Linked DNA regions of Homo sapiens: region 1 is linked to region 2. Evidence: fine-mapped expression QTL. A gene starts in region 2. The other region holds a variant in brackets. All regions are shown on one strand. Distances are between the middles of the regions. Region 1 overlaps WDR33 (WD repeat domain 33). Region 2 holds the start of SFT2D3 (SFT2 domain containing 3).

Region 1 (11,202 bases), 24 kb before region 2:
AGTCTTCAGATGTAAAATGAGTCGCTACACATACTTCGCTTAGAATAACGCTATACATAAGTATTTGTGCTTGCTAGTATTCGTTTTATTAAGAACAGCGATGAATAAAATTACATCCAAGAATCAGGACCAATCAGTTTGATTTATATTTGAGATGTGTATGGATATGGGTAAATTCATGAGATTCCTCACTTGCTTGAATTTTACTTTAATAAATTTTAGAGAACATTAGAAAGCAAAGCAGCTGAAGTTTATTTTGTGGTTCCTTTTGGGTTCATAGTTTTTTTGTTTTTACGTATGCTTCTTTAAACATACCTTAAAACTAAACAGACATACGTTCTTTATGTAATAAACGTGTCCCAGAGAAGATGAGGGTAGATAGAGACGGCTGTTAAGAATATGAACTTTTCATATTGTACATTGTAATTTGAAACTGCTTTCTCAGGCATTTCTCATAATCCCAAATTTGATTGATTAATGCATACATAGCTATACATAATATTTATTTTTAGGTGACAATGGCCCATAGAGTTTTAAAATTCCCTACCTTTTCAGGGGCAAATAGTTAATTAAAATTTCTTAAGGCAAACAAGGGGCAAGGGGGACTGAAGTATTTTTATATTTCAATTATTCCATCTTCAGTTATTTTTCTTTTTAAAAGACAAAGCAACAGCAAAACCTCTCTTCCCCCTTCCCACCCAGTTACAAAATATGTTCATTGTAGAAAATATAAAAATATAGAATAAACATGGGGAGAGAGAATCAATACCACCTTCCAGCTTAATATTATTTCTGTTAACAATTCGGTGTCTAGACTTCTTGGCTTTTTTCTTTAATTTAGATAAGCTCACACAGTCACTCATGTTATTGACTGTTTGCCTTTTACAGTGATGGTATACACTGGTGTATTTTTTTAAAATAAATTATGAACATTTTAATCATGCCATTAAATCATCTATAGGGTCATTTATAATAGGTGCATCACATTCCTTTAAGTACATATGCCACACTGCAATTTATTTTGTAATATATTTGTGTTCTATTAAAAACAAATTGTGTCAGTAAATGTCCTTGCAGATAAATCCCTTTGCACATCCATTATTTCCTAATGATAAAATCTAAGACATGAGATTATTGGGTTGTAGGAGATGTACTTTCTCATACTTTTGATACATACAGCCAAACTGTTCTCCAGATTGTTGTCACCTCCCTACATGCTTGCCAGTACGGGGTATTGTGTTGGGATAAACCTATGTCCATTTGAGACCCAAATTGTCTCCCCTTATGAACGGGTACAAATCACTGTCGGTGCCTCTACCCCGTCTCTTCTTTCCCACTTCACTTCCCTTTGTCTGTATTCTTCTGTATCCTTCCTTGTTTCCACCTCAGAACTTCACAGAAGCTGGATTTGATCCAGGGTAGAGAAGGAAGCTCTGAATGTTCTTCCTCACTCCTCATCTGCTTCTTAGTTTATTTGTTATGTAAAATATCCTTGGGGCTTTGTACAGCATCCAGTTTTTCAAAAATCATATCCATTTTTTTCAAATTTACAAATTGACTTTCACGTTTATGACTTTTAGTAAGTTAATCTATTACACTTGTGAAGTGAGCTAATGCTCTAGCACGGTGGTTACTGAAGTAACCATCCTTGGAATCCCATGGACCAGGCTCAGGGACTCTCTCCTGTTCTTGCTGACTGGCTTTGGGATCTAGGATGTGTTATTTAACCCTTCCAGCCCTTCTGTTTCTTCACTTGTAAAATGGAGATAATGCTAATACTTTCCTCAGGATTTTGTGAAGATTTAAAAAGATGATGCTTATAAGTGCTCATTACACTGCCTAAAATATAGCAGGCCTGCAGTAGGATAGCTGTTATTATTACCTCATCTAACTGTCACAACATGTGCGAATCAAGCAGAGTGTATTTCTCCTGCATTTCAGTAAACAGGAGCTGAAAGCTGGCTTTTCCTGTCATTCCATCTAGAAAGTGGTGTCCTAAATTCCTAAATGGTGGTCCCAAAGTCCTAAATTCAGGTTGAATCAAGTTCGTCTGTAAGAACTATCACAAAGTGGGACAACTGAAGTGAGTGACAGGGATTGTGCCCTATAATCAGGGTAATCGGGAACAACATGAGACACTTCAAAATCTTTACATAATGGGGTCTTGAGGGGTGCAGCCTCCAAAAGCCTCGACTGACCTCCCGGCAAGTAGGTGAGAAGATGCACTTGGGTCCAGGAGAGGACTGGCTCCTGTGTGTCTTGACATAGGAGGAGAGGATACTGTATCTGAAAAATTTCCAGACACACAGAGGCCAAAGAGTCTTCACAAAACAAGTTTTAAGTTGACTGAGCACTGAGAGCAAAACATTTACTAGGTTTCTCTACTTTGGTTTAAATTGCTTTAAATGCATGTAACTAATTAGGTTTTAATCCTAACTTGTTTCCGACAGGGCATGGTGCTGATGTGAAATGTGTAGACTGGCATCCAACCAAAGGGTTAGTTGTTTCAGGAAGTAAAGATAGTCAACAGCCAATCAAGTTCTGGGATCCCAAGACTGGGCAGAGTCTTGCAACACTGTAAGTGACAGGAACCCCACCTTGGCCCCTGAACAAAGGGGAGCAAAGCAGTGTGTCCTTTAACTTTTAGCTTTGTTTTCTCTTATGTATTTCTGGAAGAGTCATTTAGGCAACAGATGGACTTGGATCTATAGACTTCTTATGAATTAAATATGATTCATCTCTGAACTCTTAATGAAGTAAGGCTTGTTTTTGTCCTGCCACATAGACCTAAGTTTAATTTGGTTGTTATATACGGGTGGGGAGGAGGATGAGGAGGGAGGTGGTTACTATTCTAGCCTATTGCCTGTCATCAGAATACCTTGTGGCACTGTGAGGAGTTGACGTGTGTGCCCCTTACTAGACACGGCCCAGCCTTCTCCATCTCACAACATCTGTTTCGAGAGGGTTTTCTTCTGGTTTTGAACCACTTCTCATTTTTTGTCTGATGGGCTTACTTACGATGCAGCTATGTAATCTAGTTTTCTCTTTCAGTTATTTGTGAACATTCACAGCTACATGCATATGTTAACATTTTTTTGACCAAGCATCCATTTCCTGGTCTTTCTGATTGGGAAGAGAACCATATTCAGAGTGAATTGGTTGGAGCAAGGCTGCTTTGTTGTACAACCCCAATGACCATGCCAACCTGGAATGCCTTGTGAATGCTCCCTTGGAGATATCCATTGTGCAGGCCAGGGGTTGTTGCATTGTCTTTAGTTCAAATTAACTTTCAGACTTTCCAGTCCATTTTTATGCTTTGTCTTAATTAGAGAAACTTTATGGAAGTTTCAAAATGTAATGAGCTTTATTGAATATTAATTTCTGTGTTCATGTGCTTCCCCTGCTTCACGGATAAATTTTACTGTTCAGTGGAAGCTCTGCTACTGTATTATTATTATTATTATTATTATTATTATTATTATTATTATTATTTTGAGACAGAGTCTCGCTCTGTCACCCAGACTAGAGTGCATTGGTGCAATCTCGGCTCACTGCAACCTCTGCCTCCTGGGTTCAAGTGATTCTCCTGCCTCAGCCTCCTGAGTAGCTGGGACTACAGGCATGCGCCATCACGCCTGGCTAATTTTTGTATTTTTAGTAGAGTCTGGGTTTCACCATGTTGGCCAGGCTGGTCTTGAACTGACCTCAGGTGATCCACTCGCCTAGGCTTCCCAAAGTGCTGGGATTACAGGCGTGAGCCATCACGCCCAGCCTCTGCTGCTTTTTTAACTGGTTGATGAGAGCTGTCTTTGTCTGGGCAGTGCATATTATTTCTGTCGTTGACTTGTTTCTTTCAAGTGTGTTTATAACTGTGATCCTTTAATGTTACAGGCTTTATTGCTTCTAGGCCAAACCTCTTGCCATCTTGATTAATTCGCTTTTCAACAAAAATGGCCATTGTATTTATACTTGTTTTGAATTCTGACATTTTTTTTTGATACTTTGTTTCTAGTCATGCCCATAAAAACACAGTAATGGAAGTGAAATTAAACCTCAATGGCAATTGGCTACTCACAGCATCACGTGATCATCTCTGTAAACTTTTTGATATCAGAAACCTAAAAGAAGAGCTTCAAGTCTTCCGAGGTCATAAGAAAGAAGCCACAGGTCAGTGGCTGTGATATGCTTCTCATTGACCACTGTTACCTGTAACATTCTCAGATCCTGATAATTGTGTCTTTTCCCATGTTTTTGTTCTGCAGCTGTGGCCTGGCATCCTGTTCATGAAGGACTTTTTGCCAGTGGAGGGTCTGATGGTTCTTTGTTATTCTGGCATGTTGGGTATGTAAGATTTATGTGAAAAAGTAGTGTATTTTGTGAAGAGAGCACGTGAATGTGTGCAGACATGATAGTTTTGTAGCTTTTCTAAGTGTTCATATATCCTATATCAGAGACTGCTTGCAGTTTTCAGTTCTGTAAATCCAGCTTGGAATAGAAAATGTACCTCTGTTTGTGGATATGGAAGTCATTAAGGAGGAATAAAATAGATTTTCTAGTTTCTAAATGCTTGCAGCCTTTTCCCCTGTGAAGTGCTCTTTGGATGAAAGGGTAACTGTCCTTTGGCAATGACAAGCCAATACCCCGAGACATGTGGAATTCACCAGAGTCCAAGTCCAGGCTTTGGTAGCTTCATTTTAAGAGTAACAGAAAATGTCTTTTTTGAGGGGGAGGGAGAAGCTGGGTAACTTTTGTGAACAAATCTTCTCTCTTTGGTGCTGTTGCAGGGTAGAGAAGGAAGTGGGTGGGATGGAGATGGCTCACGAAGGGATGATCTGGAGTCTGGCTTGGCATCCTCTTGGGCATATTCTCTGCTCAGGCTCAAATGACCATACTAGGTAAGCTTTATATTGAAATAGCAAAGCTTTATATGGAGCAACAGGAAATAAATACTGTATGTGTTTATTTTTATTGGTTGATTGATATAGTAATTTATATTCCAACTTATTCTTGGGAATATTTTTGTAGTGGTTTACAAATACTTATATTGCAATAAAGAGATTGGGTATTGAATATGGTTTTGGCTATTCAAATTTTGTTTTGCCTTCTGACTTAAAACAGAAGTTTTCCACTTTTATTTATTTATTTATTTATTT[ATTTG/G]AGACAGGGTCTCTGTCCAGGCTGGCGTGCAATGGTGCGGTCTCAGCTCACTATAGCCTCAACCTTCCTGGGCTCAGGTGATCCTCCTACCTCAGCCTCCTGAGTAGCTGAGACTATAGGAGCACACCACCACACCTGGCTAATTTTTGCATTTTTTGTAGAGATGGGGTTTCACCATGTTGCCCAGGCTGATGTCAAACTCCTGGGCTTAGGCAATCCTCCTGCCTCAGCCTCCCAAGGTGCTGGGATTACAGGCATGAGCCACCTTGCCCGGCCCCACATTTTATTTTTATTTTTATTATTATTTTAAGAGACAGAGTCTCACTCTGTCACCGAGACTAGAGTTCTGTGGTGAGATCACAGCTCACTGTAGCCTCAAACTCCTGGGCTCAAGCCATCTTCCCGCCTTATCCTCGTGAGTAGCTGAGACTACAGGTGTGTGCCACCACACCCAGCTAACTTTTTAATTTTTATTTTGTAGAGACAGGGTTTCGCTATGTTGCCCAGGCTGGTCTTGGACTCCTGGACTTAATCCTCCTGCCACAGCCTCCCAAAGTGCTGGGATTACAGATGTGAGCCAAAGTGTATGACCTCACATTTTAAATTTGTAGAAGAAACAAATTGTAAAAATGTGTTGTGTTTACCAAGGGTCTGCCTAGTACTGTTTAGTGCCCAAAAAAATAGTGAAGCCATGCTTCTTTTCTCCTTTAATTATTTTTACAGCAAATTCTGGACTCGAAACCGACCAGGTGATAAAATGCGAGATCGATATAATCTAAACCTTTTACCTGGAATGTCTGAAGATGGAGTAGAATATGGTGAGACTCTTGCACATCTGTCCTTCTTTGAAATCTGGTATTCTATTACAGAAGTGTTAGATGTTGGGAAGATTATACAAAATGAATTTTAATTTTATAGTAGATTTATTTATAAATCATCAGTGACATTCATTTTTATAAAGCATTAATTTTATCAGTCGCTACTTTTGTAAATTCTCTATTGACAATGGTGTATTACTATTTATAGATGACCTCGAACCTAATAGCCTGGCAGTAATTCCAGGAATGGGAATACCAGAACAACTAAAATTAGCTATGGAACAAGAACAGATGGGTAAGAGAAGTTACACAGACACATTTAATTTTTACAAATTTTTTCTTGACCCGTTTATGTTCCTGATAAATATATTGAAATACCAAAATGATTTATGTTGAGAAATGTTGATAAAAATTATATAAATGACATAATACTTAAAATCTATTCTTCCAATAATGTGTTCATTGATCAAGTGGCCAATTTCTTTTATTTAAGAGGCAAACCACTTTTCTTTACGGTTACAGGGAAAGATGAATCAAATGAAATTGAAATGACAATTCCAGGTTTAGATTGGGGAATGGAGGAAGTGATGCAAAAGGATCAGAAAAAAGTACCTCAGAAGAAAGTTCCTTATGCAAAACCCATTCCTGCTCAGTTCCAGCAGGTAAGTAAAAGTGACTCCACCTCATCCACGCAGAGAGGTTTTGGTTGGTTAGTTTGAGGTTTCTCTTGGATTATCTCACTGTTGAAGGTGTTTCTGTACTGGAGCATTTTTCCCATGTTCACGTACTCTTAGACATGGTTCTCATCTACTGCTTTGCAGTTGTATTGAGTTTGTTATCAGTCTTCTCTGTTCTGTCCTCACCTGCTTATTATCATCCATGCTATGAGAGGAAATAGAAGAAAGAGGCATGGAGCAGAGGGAGTATGGGAGTATGTTGCTTCTCTTCTCCATTGTTTATCTATCTTGTGCTTTAATTGTCCCCTCAACACAAAGTGCATGTACCCTGTGAAGAGGCTGGCAAGCTTTGCATTCTTAATAACATGCAGTGTCTTGCAGCTTTTATCACCATAGTAATTTCTACCTAGTAATATGTCAGTAAGAATTAGCATGAGTCATGTACTTGAGTCATGGAGAAAAGGTAAAAAGAAATAAAATCGGTTCAGAGGTTAGATTGAGCAGATGACATTGTAGAGTGGTTTTCTCATTCTATCATTGTAATTTTCATACTTAGCGTACATTTTAATATTCTCTTCTTTCCCAAGGCTTGGATGCAAAATAAAGTTCCAATTCCTGCTCCAAATGAGGTGCTGAATGACAGAAAAGAAGACATTAAATTGGAAGAGAAGAAAAAAACACAAGCAGAAATTGAGCAAGAAATGGCTACATTACAATATACTAACCCACAACTTCTGGAGGTGTGTGAAGCTCTGTAGGGGGGAATTCAAGATGATCTAAGAGGGTAGTGGTGACATTTTTATTGATAGGCTCTTAAGGAAAAGGGAAGGGGCTCTCCCATGGTCTGACAAACACCGCCATTTCCTGTTGCTATGCTAGAAGACTAGTTTCCAAAAGAATCCTGTTTCTTAAAATTTTTTAAAATGTGTTATTTATGTATTTTGTTTTATTTATTTTATTTTAGAGACAGAGTCATGCCCTGTCACCCAGGCTGGAATGCAGTGGTGCGATCACGGCTTGCTACAACCTCTGCCTCCCAGGCTCAAGTGATCTTCCCACATTAAGCCTCTTGAGTGGCAGAGACCACAGGCATGCACCATCACGTCTGACTAATTTTTTTTTAAGTGACTTCCTTGAGTCATATCTTGGACTTTTAAAACCCAATTAGGGTCAGGCGTGGTGGCTTACACCTGTAATCCCAGCACTTTGGGAGGCCGAGGCAGACAGATCACCTGAGATCAGGAGTTTGAGACCAGCATGGTCAACATGGTGAAACCCCACCTCTACTGAAAATACAAAAATTAGCTGGGCATGGTGGTGCATGCCTGTGGTCCCAGTGACATGGGCGGCTGAGGCAGGAAAATGGCTTGAACTCCAGAGGCAGAAGTTTCAGTGAGCCGAGATCGTACCACTGCACTCCAGCCTGTGCCACAAAGTGAGACTCTGTCTCAAAAACAACAACAACAACATAAAAAAACTGAATTAGTGGGGCAGTGAGTAGATCTAAGTTAAATATACATTTTTAATAGAAAAGATAAAGCCAACATAGTTTTAATTTGAATTCACCTGTTTATGAAAGAGTTTTTCCTTTTTGTCTGCTCATATAGCAGGTAGCTTGTTCTTATTTTTCTTATCTATGTTAGCTACCAAGAATGATGAATTAGTGGTGAATTATTGGGCTTTCCCTGATCAAGATGGACAAAAATAATCCTGACTAGGCCAGGCACAGTGGCTCACGCCTGTAATCCCAGCACTTTGGGAGGCGAGGCGGGAGGATCAGCTGAACCCAGGAGTTTGAGATCAGCCTGGGCAATATAGCAAGACCCTGTCTCTACAAATAATAATTAGCTGGGTGTGGTGGCATGTGCCTGTAGTCCCAGCTACTCCGGAGGCCGAGGTGGGAGGATCACTTGAGCCCAGGAGGGTGAGGCTGTAGTGAACCACGATCGTACCACTGCATTCCAGCTTGGGGGACAGAAAAAAAAAATAAGGAAAAAAAAATCCTTACTACTGTGTCCCAGGACTTAAAAAGAATGAGAAAGAACCTAAAACTCCTTACAGTGCTTGAGTGTTGCATGGACTCTAATTACCACTGGAGCGTGAAGAGTTTGAGCAGTTTTTATGTTTGAGAGTCCCCTAACAGAATACATGATAGCAATATTGTCATCTTCAAGGGCTCTGGCCTGTTTATTCAACATGCTTTTTTCTTTCTTTCTTTCCAGCAACTTAAAATTGAAAGACTTGCACAGAAACAAGTTGAGCAAATTCAGCCTCCTCCCTCATCTGGCACCCCTCTCCTCGGACCCCAGCCTTTTCCAGGACAAGGTCCAATGTCTCAGATTCCTCAAGGTTTTCAACAGCCCCATCCATCTCAGCAGATGCCAATGAACATGGCTCAAATGGGGCCTCCAGGTCCACAGGGACAGTTTAGGCCTCCTGGACCCCAGGGACAAATGGGACCACAAGGTCCTCCACTGCATCAGGGAGGTGGGGGGCCACAAGGATTCATGGGACCACAGGGGCCCCAGGGCCCGCCCCAGGGGTTGCCACGGCCTCAGGACATGCATGGGCCCCAAGGAATGCAGAGGCATCCTGGACCTCATGGCCCTTTGGGACCTCAAGGGCCACCTGGACCACAAGGTAGTTCTGGTCCTCAAGGTCATATGGGTCCTCAGGGTCCACCTGGCCCACAGGGTCACATAGGCCCCCAAGGCCCGCCTGGCCCTCAGGGTCACTTGGGCCCACAGGGGCCTCCGGGTACTCAAGGTATGCAGGGACCACCTGGTCCCAGAGGAATGCAAGGGCCTCCTCATCCTCATGGGATCCAAGGCGGACCAGGGTCTCAAGGGATCCAAGGTCCTGTGTCTCAGGGACCTCTGATGGGATTGAATCCAAGAGGAATGCAGGGGCCTCCAGGCCCCCGGGAGAACCAGGGTCCTGCTCCCCAAGGGATGATTATGGGCCACCCGCCTCAAGAGATGAGAGGACCTCACCCTCCAGGTGGACTACTGGGACACGGCCCTCAGGAAATGAGAGGTCCTCAGGAGATCCGAGGCATGCAGGGGCCTCCACCCCAAGGATCAATGCTGGGACCTCCCCAGGAATTGCGAGGGCCTCCAGGCTCACAAAGTCAGCAGGGGCCGCCCCAGGGCTCTTTAGGACCTCCACCCCAGGGTGGCATGCAAGGACCCCCCGGACCTCAGGGACAGCAGAACCCAGCAAGAGGGCCACATCCATCTCAAGGGCCAATACCATTCCAGCAACAGAAAACGCCTCTGCTAGGTGATGGGCCCCGGGCCCCCTTCAACCAGGTATTATTCATTTCCAACTCACGGGCACATTGGGAAAATACACTCTGCACAGAAGTAATACTGCTGAGTATTGTGGAAAATGGTCACAGCTGGATATAAATACTTATCAAGTAGTGACAGTAGCTTAAGATACTAGCATCCTGGCTGAAGAATGAAATCATAAGAATGATGAGTTAGGTTATACTCCCATTAAGTACATCTCAGTATTCATTTTTACTTCTCACCATTTTTCTTTTTTTGGTAATAGAGTTTCTTCAGAAAAGGTCAACTCTCATTTGAGTACAGCTGATAATTGTCCCAGGGCTCCAGGAGAGCTGTGGCCCTGAGGAGGAAGCATGTTTTACATGGTGGTCGGCTCTGAGGCTGTCATGCCTCCTTTCTGGGCCCTTTACATTGCAGCCTGGTGTTCCATGGGCCTGCCAGCCACAGAATCACTTCCTGTCTGCCAACTCTACTTTTAAAAGATAGGATGGGATATTTAACTCATGAGTATACTATAGACTCTGTACCTCACTCTGTTTATTACAGTGAATAGAAATAAAGAGACTGTTATTCCAGAATTGAGCATTCTGGAAATGGTGACCCTTTGGATGAAACTCTGCTCAAGTTGTTTTCAGCTCACATATAAAAGTATTTGCAGGGGGGAGCATTTCTGTAGAAATTCTCCTTCTTTGAGGATTCTGTTTTTGTTAGCCAATTTTTATTGCTCATGCGCTGAGCTCGTGCTTGAGAGATGGTGTGAGGAAAGTTCAGGTTGCTTGGGGGAGTGAATTACGAAAAGAATTGCATGAGCATAAATAGATGTAATACTGCTCAGCTATGTGCATTTTATGCTTTTCTCAAGTTCTTAGTCTGGAGGCATTATTTGGGTATGAATAACTGAGTTTTGTCCCTGAAAACTCACTTTTGGTCCAGTGTGGACCAAAAGTGAGCGAGTCAGCTAATGTTGACTCCCTGAGACACTTGGAGAAAGGGGATGCTACAGATGTAGAAAGCACAGTCTGTTTTGGTTTTTCAAATACCACCACGAATCCCTAATGTAAAGATGACCATTGGGTTTCCTGAACTCAACTACTAAGCTAAAACAAATAAATTATCTACTATTCTAAAGTAGGTCTTCCAGAACCTAAAAGTGTCGTAGTCATGGAGAATCTGATGATGTCTGAGTTATTTCCAGATTTTTATTCAGCACTTCTCAGAAGTTAGGATGAATTAAGTATAGGATTGCCATTCTAAATT
Region 2 (10,758 bases):
TTTTTTGTGTGTGTGTTTTTTGTAGAGATGGAGTTTCACCACTTTGTCTATGCTGGTTTCAAACTCCTGGGCTCAAGCGGTCCACCTGCTGTGGCCTCCCAAAGTGCTGGGATTGCAGATCTGAGCCACAGTACCTGGCCGCTGGTGCTGGAAGTTTCAATGGTTGCTTAGAAAAGGCATACTGATATAGTTTAACAGGATATGAAAATTTAACTGGTTCTCTATGAATGTAAAAAACAGCAAAAGCTAATTGATTTCTGTGGAGTGAGAAAATGTCAGCCATATACACTGCTTTTCAGTGTTAGAATCTAGAGACTATTTTTTTTTTAACTTTGAAATTACAGCTTATTTAATCAGCGCTCCACCATAAACATGCTATTAGGAGGCTCAAGATTGCTTTAGGTTATGGGTATTTCTTCACTCACCCCCAACTGGTATAGCTTAAAGAGAGAGAAACTGTAATCAAATTTCATGAAGCTAAAACCGGATCCAGAGACCAAACCCATATCAAGATTAGACTTTTTTTCCCTGAGATTCTAGTGGAAAAATTTTCATTATTTTGGGCTTTAACTTTAGAAACATAGTATCTCAGTAAGCAGATAACCAGATCACATTTAAAAATTTTCATTTTACCTTGAAGCTCTACTGGACTTGACAGATCACATTTTGAGAGTGAATTCATTTAAACAATAAACCTCTACATTATACTTATTAAATATATATGGCATTTAAAAACATCACTGTCAGCATACATACTAGATGTTGTGATTTGAAGCTTATAAAAAGTAGATTTTCAATGATGTTTGATTTGAGAAAAAATTTTTGAGACAAGGTCTCGCTGTTGCCTAGGCTGTGGTGCAGTGGTGTGATCACAGTTCACTGCAGCCTCAACCTCCTGGGCTCAAGTGATCTTCCCACCTCAGCCCCACCCCAAGTAGCTGGGATCACAGTTGTGTGCCACCATATCTGGCAAATTTTTTGAAGATTTTCTGTGGCGATGGGGTTTAACTGTGTTGCCCAGGCTGGTCTTGAACTCCTGGCCTCAAGTGATCCTCCCGCCTTGGCCTCCCAAAATGCTGGGATTACAGGTGTGAGCCACCAGCTGAGAAATGTTGAATTTTTAAGTTTTTATTTAAGAAATAAACATTGTAAAACATCATTATAAAACCCCCAACTATTGCAAGTTCTAGAGAAATTTAAAACTAGAACAGAAATTTAGGGGACTAGAAAGAGCAGCCAATGGCACAAGTCTTTACAATTAATTAAAAAAATAAATCATTCTGAAGATACTGCATTTGCTCTCTCACAAGCAGCCTCCTGAGGTAGGTAACCTTGTTTACTGATGGGGAACAAGGCAGTGTTCTTTACCAAATCTCAGGGCGGGTAGCCTGCAAGCCTACAGTGTGGATGTTGGCCACTTGTGTCACTTCTTGGGACGGGGCTTAGGGACCTGACTTACTTAGGAACATAAATTTTGGGGTTGGAGGAAGCAGCAGTGCTCTACTGCGGCACGACAGACACCCTGTTAAGGCAACACTGGGATCCAGCTCAGGAAAAGCATTACTTTCAAATTGTGCAAGCCAATGCACAGAAAAGTGGTCCTCAAACTTGGGGAACGTAGAATCACTTGGGGAGCTTTAAAAAGGTCCTGATGTCTGGGACCTACTTCCCAGGTTCTGACTGCATTGATCTGAGGTGTGGCTCTTCAAGTAACTGATGTGCAGTCAAGCGCGAGGACCACTGGCACACAATGTTTAAATTCTAAATATATTTTACTTCCTAGTGTATTGCTACTGACAAAACGTAGTTTTCTGGACTCATCAGAATGTTAGGCTCATACCTTCTGGCAATAAATTAAGGTAGTTAAAAGTAACTGCTGAACCTAAAATGAAGGCAGCAGCAATTAGATATAAAAAAATCTTAAGATCAGCCTGCAAATTGTAAACTAGTTTACAAAGCAGGCTATACAATGAGGAATAATTCGAGCTTGTAGAAATCCATGGTTTCCACCAGATACAGGTATTCCGGATCTAGAATTATCTTTCTATTTGCAGGATTTCCGAAGAGACCGTTAAGCATCTACGCGCCCCTTCCTGGATCCCATGCTTCTTGGGGCAGGAAATTTCTTTTGGTCCGTCGCTTTCGTCGTGAAATACACAACTAATTTTCCTTTCATGTTATAAGGCACCATATTTATGATTTTGTTAACTGAAGAAAAAACCCGAGATAAACCATCTTAAGTACTTTTAAAAGTCCAGTGGCTGAATTCGGTGTTTAATCTGATACCCTTCTGGATTCGCTGACACTGGAGAGAATAATTTCCAAGTCTTAGTATAGCCAAAACAAAAAACTACCGTCGCTAAGCTACATCTACCACTGGATTTTAAAATGACAAAACAGCCTGAGAAAAATCACAAGAGCAGCTAACTCGAAGAAAAATCCTTTTTCTTTACTCAGCCGAACCTAAGACCACAGTTACTTCGAAAGCAACTTCTAATAACCGTCTCACATCCTGTCACCAGTTCAATGACAAAATCTCAGTTTTCAGAGCGTGTGCCAAGTCCAGCACAAAAAGCTGACATCGAGGAGCTCCCAACGCTGCTGTCGCCTCCGCTGGCAGCAGCCGCTCCCGGATTAGACTCGCAGGCTGTTAGGGCAGGGCCTTCGCCACGGGCTTCCGCACAGCGGCGTGCAGTCCTCAGCTCGGCCGGCGCGGTCTCCGACGGCGCTGGCTCCGCGTACTTCCCCAGCGGCGAGGGCGCGAGGTCCTCACACGGGCAGCACCTTGGCGAGGCCGGCGCCGCGGCCCAGGCGACCCAGTGCGAGGCGCAGCGCGGTGCCGCCGCCCCAGGGCAGCAGCCCAACCAGCGCGGCCAGCAGCGCGGCCACCTGCGCGCCCGCGCCCAGCACCGTGAGCAGCGTGCTGCGAAGGCCCAGCGCGGCGAACAGCGTGGCGCCCAGCGCTGCCATGTAGAGCAGCGCGGGCCGGGACGGCGCTTCTTCGCAGCGCAGCAGGCGTCCGCACGCCGCGCCGCCCCGCAGCAGCGCGCTTCCCGCCAACGCCAGCGCCGAGCCCAGTGACCAGAGCAGCGCGAACTTGCGCGCGCGCAGCAGCAACACCGGTGCGTAGAGCGCGGCTAGGCCGAAACACAGTGCAGCCAGCAGCAGGCACCCGCCGCCCGCCGCCAGCCGCTGCCCGCGCGTCACGCTCGGGAGGCACGTCAGGCCGGCCGCTGCCGACTCCGCAGGGCTCCGCGCCCACGTCCAGCGCAAGCCCGCGCGGCCCAGCCACTCCTCCGCCGGCCGGTCCCCGGGCTCCTCCGCCTTCTCCGCGGCGAGCAGCGGCTCCGCGGCCGCCGGGCCGCCAGCTTTCCCCTGCGCCAGGTACTCCTGCAGCTGGCGGTGGAGGTCCGCCATCTTGGACAAGGCGGTGGCAGAAAGGAAAAGCTGCGGCTCACTTCCGGCCCTCCGCTGAAGCGGTTCGGTCTTCGGGCGGCAATTGGTCGGCGACGGCGAAAGGGGCAGGGCCTGCGGCGCTCGCGGAAGTGCCGCGGTGCCTGCTCTGCGGACTTTTGTGGTGTCCCCAAGTACCGTGGTCGCAGGTGCTGCCTGTCCGCTTGCAGTCGCCCTCCCAGCGCCTGACCCTCTTCCTTGTTCGGAGTAGGCGCCCTTGCGGTCTGGCTAAGTCCTGCCAGCATTAATAGTTGGAAGGCAGGGGTGGGTGTGGTTCTAAAGGGGCACAAGAAGTGACCCTTTTGCTGACGGAAATGTCTTATGGCCTCACTGCGTCTACCGTGGCGGTGATATTGTGCTAGTTTTGCAACATGGAGGAATGGGTAAAGGGTACACAGAATCTCTCTTGTTTCTTACAACTGAACACAAACAGTGATCTCAAAATAAAAATTTAATTTTTAAAAAAGTTCAGACCTGTGTAACTCAGGTGGGTTTTTTGGGGAAAGTTGCGTTCTGATTAGTTACCTCACTTGTAGTAATAGTGACCATCCTGATCATTTACCATGGGGTTGATAAAGGAAGGGTTGACACCCAGCACCCTCAACCTGCTTCTCTATTCTGTTCTCAGTTTCGGCCACAGGCCTGGCAACATCCTTGACTCCTTCGCGCCCCTTGTCCAAGACTCGGTGCTGCTGTCCCATGTGTTTGGTGTCACTCTCGTGCTCTGGACAGCGCCACGCCCAGGTGTCCTGACTCATCGTCACATCACTGTGACAAGCTGGCTCGCACGCAGGTCAATCCTGATCTGTTCCCAGGCCGCACCCACGTGCCCTGCTGTTTCTCAGAGCCTCCTAGAGGGTGTTTGCTTGTGGTTCCTCTCACAGGTCAGATTCCTCCAGATTCTTCCAGCTGCCTCCACAGCTCCCCTCACCACCTTGGCTTCCCCTGGGTGGCCCTGTGTCCTTTGTCCTCTGCCCTAGGTGGATGTAAGGTTAACGGCTTCCTGCTGTTTGGCTTCTCAGCCTTTCCATCCCCTGTGTGTAACTAATCTCCCCCATTAAGTTCCTTTTAATGCTTTCTGTTTTCTTGGTTGGATCCTGGCAGATGCAATTCTTTTTCAAAATATATTCTGATTTGTTATCTCACTTGATAATAATAGTGACCAGCCTGATCACTTAGCATGGGCTAAACCATTAGGATGGCTACAATCAAAACAAAAAAACAAAAACACACCAGAAAGTTACAAGTGCTGTCAAGGATGTGGAGAAACTAGAAGCCTTGTGCACCGTTGGTGGGAATGTAAAATGCTATATCCGCTGTGGAAAACAGTATGGAAGTTACTATAAAAAAAAAATATATATATATATATATACACACACACACACACAGACACATATAAACGTATATACACACATATTTGTATACAGTTATGTGTGTATGTGTGTATATAATTACAATCCAATCCAGCAGTTCCACTCTGGATATATACCCCAAAGAATTGAAAGCAGGGTCTCAGAGATTTGTATAACTCTTCACAGCAGAACTATTCATGTCAGTCAAGAGATGGAAGCAACCCAAGTGTCCACCAGCAGATCAATAAAATGTGATATATGCATACAACGGACTGTTACGCAGCCTTAAAAAGGAAGGAGATTCTGACACATGCTACGACATGGATGAACCTTGAGGACATTAGGCTGAGGGAAATAAGCCAGTCACAAAAAGGACCAATACTGCATGATTCCACTTCTGTGAGGTACTTAGAGTAGTCAAATACACAGAGCTAGAAAGTGGACTGGGTGCATAAATGCCCATCAGTGATGTTACCTAATCATTTATGCAGCTACCGTATAGAAAAGGCAGGAGTGTGCTGCTCATTTTATAGGTGAGGGAAGCTGAGAAATACCAAGAAGTGAGGTAACCTACTCAAGGTCACCTACAAAACTGACGATAGGGCAGCGTTAGGTTGTGATTCCTGGTTTCTAACCTTGTGGGCTTCCCATTGCAGAAAGAGGCCTTCACTGAGGGTCCCTCTGTGTGAGCCCTGGATGCGCTTTCTGCTGTGGTTTGGTTGCAGGGAGGGAAGGTCATTAACAAAACCCACTCTCCTCTAGCACTGCAGCAAAACTCATCCTAACAATCATCTTCACTTGCTTCCCTGTCTCCCTTGAAGCCCTTCAACCAGGCCTTCGTTCCACCGTGCCAGCAAAATTGTTCATTACAAAATCGCCAGACGCTGTCGGCTAGTGCGGTGAGTTTCGGCCCTCAGCCCCAGGACGGCACCGTGGGCTCCTCTCTTGACTGTTCCTCCTCCTGAGACCTCAGCGTTGTTGCGCCTGGGATATCCCCTCTTTTCTCTCTCGGCACCCTCTGGCCCAGCCCGTGTTGTTAAAACCCTCTGCGTGCAGAGCGTCCCCCACTTCTCCACCGGGCATCTAATAGACACCCTGGAGGTGACATGCAGAACCAAACACTTCACTCCTGACTTCCCCTCCTCATCCCCCAAAACCTGTAGCTAACCCCTCCTTCCGCACCTCAAGAAATCGCACCCCATCAGCAAGTCCCACCAGCTCTACCTTGGAAACAGATCCAGTACCAGCCGATTCTCTCCTCCACCACTAACCCCACATCTGGGCGCCCCCCTGCACCCCACCACGGAGCCCCTGTTTTGGTCCATGCTTTCCTCACGGTTGTTCACACATCGGCCTGAGGGACCTTTGTCCACTGAGTCAGATGATGTCACTCCCCCAGTGCTCCCCACCTCACACTCACAGAAGCAACTTCCTCACCTCGCCCACGCTGCCCTGTGGAATGGCCGGGACCTGTCTGCCTCTACTCCCCTGCTTTCTCCCCACTCCATGCCAGTCTATGACTGGTGGCCTTTGGGTTGTTTCTGGATCTGTCAAACATGTTCCCACTTCGGTGCCTTTGTCCTTGCTGTTCTCGGCCTAGAGCATTCCTCCTCACCCCAAATATCTTCACAGCGCCCTCCCTCATTCCTTCAGGTCTCTACTTCAATGTCACTTTTCAAAATGTCTTTCCCTGACTTCCCCGAAGCAGCAGCTCCCATCACCCTCCACCCTTTCCACTCACAAGCATAATGGACGGTAGCACACTCGTTTCCTGGGTGGTCTAAGAACAGGCAAATGCCTTTCTGAGCCCTCCCTCCCTCCCGATCCTTCATTTTGAGCCTGTCCTTCCTTCTGGGCTCCATTCACAGTGGACGTTGATGTGGATGGAGATGCAAAGGACCCAGACTCACACACATGCAGCAGGGCCCTGAAAGGATTTTTTTTTTAATTTCTTGTTCTGAAACCCTATTTCTCTGTGGTACTCGATGGCCTTGTCCCCACGGGGAGAAGCCTGGCTTTTCAGGAGCTTTAGATTTCACCGTGTCAGCACCAGGCAGGGCCTGGCCTCAGCTCTCGCAGCCACCGCATCTGCACATCCTGGGCAGGGGCTCTTCAGATGCCCGCGTCCTCCCTTCCAGTATTGTTGGACTTTAGCATAAGGTCAGGCAGGTCCCAGCTCCCACCTCCCCAAGGGGAAGGGGCCACAGCCAGCCTTTTCTTCTGCCGAGGTCTTTCACCTTGACCTGAGGAAGCAGCACCCTTCGCACCAAATCCTCTCCCACTTGCAGGAAATTATATTTTCTCCCAGAGCCCAGCAAGTGTTATCCACGCTTCTTTTGAGGGCTTTCCAGAGTGGCGTCTGCCTCCCTTCCCTGTCTGTCATGGCCCTCTCTGTTCAGCTGGGTTTACTTGTCCCCTGCCGGGCCGCAACCTGAACTACATTCTCCCTTCCTTCAGTGTGGCGGGTCAGCTAGCGCCAACCACCCCCTCATTTTTGAGACAGGATCTTGCTCTGCTGCCCAGGCTGGAATGCAATGGTGCGATCTTGGCTCACTGCAAACTCCGCCTCCCGGGTTCAAGCGATTCTCCCACCTCAGCCTCTGGAGTAGCTGAGATTACAGGCGCCTGCCTGTAGACGGGGTTTCCACAGATGGTGCAGGTGGTCTCCAACTTCAGAGCTCAAGTGATCCGCCCACCTCAGCCTCCCAAAGTGCTGGGATTACAGGCATGAGCTACCGCACCAGGCCCACCAGTGCCCCCTTTCAAAACTGAAATCTAGTAATGTCCTCTTTATCTACTATTCTTCAGTGGCTCCTTATTTCCTACAGATTAAATTCTAATTCCCTGCCTGCCACCCAGCCTTCTAGGCCCTGCCTTACGCCCCTGTGGCTCTCCCCGATGCTCTGTGGGGTCCCTCTGGACCTAGCAGTTTGGAGACTCCCTTCTTCTGTGGCTTTGCTGAGCCTGGGCTCTCTGCTGGGTGGACCTCTGTCTACTGCTCCTTCCCCTCCCTCTCCCAAGCATCCCCTTCCTCCAGGTCAGTCCTCAGGGCCCACACAGCCCTGTCACTGACTGGTGACATTGCCAATGCCTTGAGGAGTTTTGTTATCAAACAAATGGGCTCACTGCTCAAGGCACAGCGAAACCAGTAACACTGGCAGCAGCTTTTGAGAAAAGAAAGGTTTCATTGCAAAACTGACAAGCAAGGAGGCAGGAGTGGGGCTCAAATCTGTCTCCCCAGTTTGAGGTCTGGGGTAAGCTTTAAGGGATCAGAGGGCAAGGGAAGTGATTGAGCAGTGTTGGCTTGGCAGGGTCTGATTGGCGGGCTTCAAATTTAACGATTTATGGAAAGGTTTGTCAAGGTAGATTTGGGCCCCAGTCTCCCAGGCTGACGCATCCCTGCTTCTGAAAGATTTCCATGTTCAGGTTCCAGTCCTGTCCTGGTCTTCTTTGTTCCGAGGGGAGGAGTCATTGGTTCTGGGTATTGTTAGAGGTCAAAGCTTGTTCCATTGTGCATGCCTGGGCAACATGGCTTGCAGTTTTGGCTCTGTTGTACCTACAAAGCAATGCGACATTCTGTCATCAACAAGGTAGGCCCAGTATGCGCTGGTCTCGCAGTTATAGTTTCTTCTTTTATTTACTAATTTTTAAAAGAATACCTAACTGCTTGCGTGGTGATGGTCTTCTCAAGTCTCATTTCTTTGAGTCCTGCTTCCCAGCCCCTGTCACTGTCTTCATTGCCTTGGCTTTTCCGGGTGACCTCAAGTTGGGTGGCTCAGGCTTTGTGGCAAATGTTGGCTCACCAGGCTGATTCATCATGGCTCAGTCACTGTCTGGGTTGGTCGCCTGGCCCTGGTGATCTTCCTCAGGCACAGTGCCAAAGCACTTGCCACAAAATGATGTCTCCTGTCCCCCCGACCTTGGGGCAGCAGAGCCTCTCCGTGGCCACTGGCTCATAGAGCTTCTGCACTGAGGGAGGTGCTCCGGCCAAGGCAGTGACCAGCAGCCACATGTAGCCTCTGCACCTGCGGGGCAGCTGAGGAACTGAATTTTAAATTTTAATTAACTTTAGTTAATTCATTATTTATATTGAATTATATTTAAAACATCATAATGTACCCACATTATTATATGTAACATACATAATATACTATTAATATATATTTATCATAGCCACATGTAGCTACTGTATTCCCACTGCCCCTCTGGAGCCTGTCAGAGATAGGGGGCGCAGTTGGCATTGTCACCACGCTGCCTGCACTTGAGTGCGAGCGGGTGCCCAGGGAGCGCTGGCGGCGCTCGCGTGCTGCTGGGGATGGGCAGACTCCTCGAGGGGCGCGGGCGAACGGTCGGGCTCTTGGACGTGGGGGGGCAGCGGCGTGCGGGGCCCTCCCCCGGTTTTCTCCTTACGCGTCCTGGGGAAACTGAGGACGCAGACGCCCTCCCACAGGAGCGTCTGAGCCAGGGCGCCTCCCAGGATGCCTCGCTGTCCCTCAGGCCTTCGTAGCGTCGGCTTGTCCAGTTGGCACCGCCCGTCCCGCTCTCTGGGGGCCCTGGCACCTCGGCCCCGCGCGGGCCTGTCCCGGGACCCCGCCGGCCGCGGGCCGCTCTCACGTGCTTTTGGCTGCAGCCCTACCCCGCTAGATTAGATTTAAAATCGCTAAAGGGGCCCTGTTCTGATAGCCTTAGAGATAAATAAGCACCTTATATAAATGGAATAGTCCCGAATTTTTCAGAAGTTGGGGAAATGTAACTTCTAATATGTTAATGGTCAAAAAGGAAAATTATTTTCATAAAAACTGACTCAGAAATGTTTTAAGAATTCAAAATCTTGTTATTTAGACAAATGTGACTGGGTTAATATTTTTGGCTTAATAAAAACAGCTATGGGCCAGGCGCAGTGACTCACGCCTGTAATCTCAGCACTTTGGGAGGCTGAAGCCAGCAGGTCATGAGCCCAGGAGTTCAAGACCAGCCTGGCCAACATGATGAAACCCCGTCTCTACAAAAATACAAGAAATTAGCCGGGCACAGTGGCGCGCGCCTGTGGTCCCAGCTTCTGCAGAGGCTGAGGCGAGAGGGTTGCTTGAGCTGGGGAAGTCAAGGCTGCAGTGAGCCTAGATCTTAACCACTGCACTTCAGCCTGGGCGACAGAGGGAGACCCTAAATCAAAAAAAAAAAAAAAAAAAAAGGAAAGAAAAAACTCATTTAGAAAGGGCTAATTTCTGTACAATTATTTTCCTTCTCTGTTGATTTTAAATAAACATTTAAATACTTTATTGTCATGGCCAGATGCAGTGGCTCACGCCTGTAATCCCAGCACTTTGGGAGGCCGAGGTGGGCGGATCACGAGGTCAAGAGATCAAGACCATCCTGGCCAACATGCGGAAACCCTGTCTCTACCAAAAATACAAGAATTAGCTGGGCGTGGTGGTGCGCGCCTGTAGTCCCAGCTACTCCGGAGGCTGAGGCAGGAGAATCCCTTGAACCAAGGAGGTGGAGGTTGCAGTGAGCTGAGATCGCGCCACTGCACTCCAGCTTGGCGACAGAGCGAGACTCAGTCTAAAACAAAAACAAAGACAAAAAAACCAGAAATTATTGTCAGTTTGAAATGAATAGCCAAATAGTTTCTCATGATTTGACTTCTATTTTAAGTGGTTAAATCTCTTGATAACTTTGCTTTTTGCCTTCCCAATATTGAGTCCTAATGTAAAATAAAATAAGATAAAATTCCCCAGGTTTTGCCTGGAACGTCATTTTTGAGAATGGCATTCATTTGGGATAGCTTTGATGTCTAAACACTCTTTGAATTTCCCAGAGGGTCCCTGAAAGCACTTGTTGTCTTGTTGTCTATTCTTTGAAAATGAGGTTAATAAGGGCCGGGCGCAGTGACTCACGCCTGTAATCCCAGCACTTTGGGAGGCCGAGGTGGGCGGATCACAAGGTCAGGAGT

What was found. PIP is the estimated chance that this variant, and not a neighbour inherited with it, causes the effect.
Region 1: its variant is fine-mapped to the expression of SFT2D3 in whole blood (INTERVAL, PIP above 0.99).

The regions. Positions count from the first base shown.
Region 1 is chr2:127,718,026-127,729,227 of GRCh38, reverse strand. WDR33 (WD repeat domain 33) reads left to right here. Exons shown (of 22, transcript NM_018383.5): 8 at 2,451-2,577; 9 at 4,013-4,167; 10 at 4,263-4,341; 11 at 4,785-4,895; 12 at 5,881-5,975; 13 at 6,184-6,270; 14 at 6,498-6,637; 15 at 7,240-7,392; 16 at 8,875-9,963. Among named protein-coding and RNA genes, the nearest start is that of SFT2D3, 22 kb to the right of the region's middle. RefSeq lists an enhancer at 6,666-7,865. The variant ATTTG/G (reference allele first, on the strand shown) is at 5,154.
Region 2 is chr2:127,694,188-127,704,945 of GRCh38, reverse strand. It overlaps SFT2D3 (SFT2 domain containing 3), which reads right to left and starts at 3,449. Exons shown (of 1, transcript NM_032740.4): 1 at 1-3,449. The coding sequence starts at 3,417. The coding sequence ends at 2,770. WDR33 (WD repeat domain 33) reads left to right here. Exons shown (of 22, transcript NM_018383.5): 22 at 1-3,919. RefSeq lists a silencer at 2,691-3,370 and enhancers at 3,690-4,211, 4,131-4,500, 4,212-4,733, 3,728-4,927.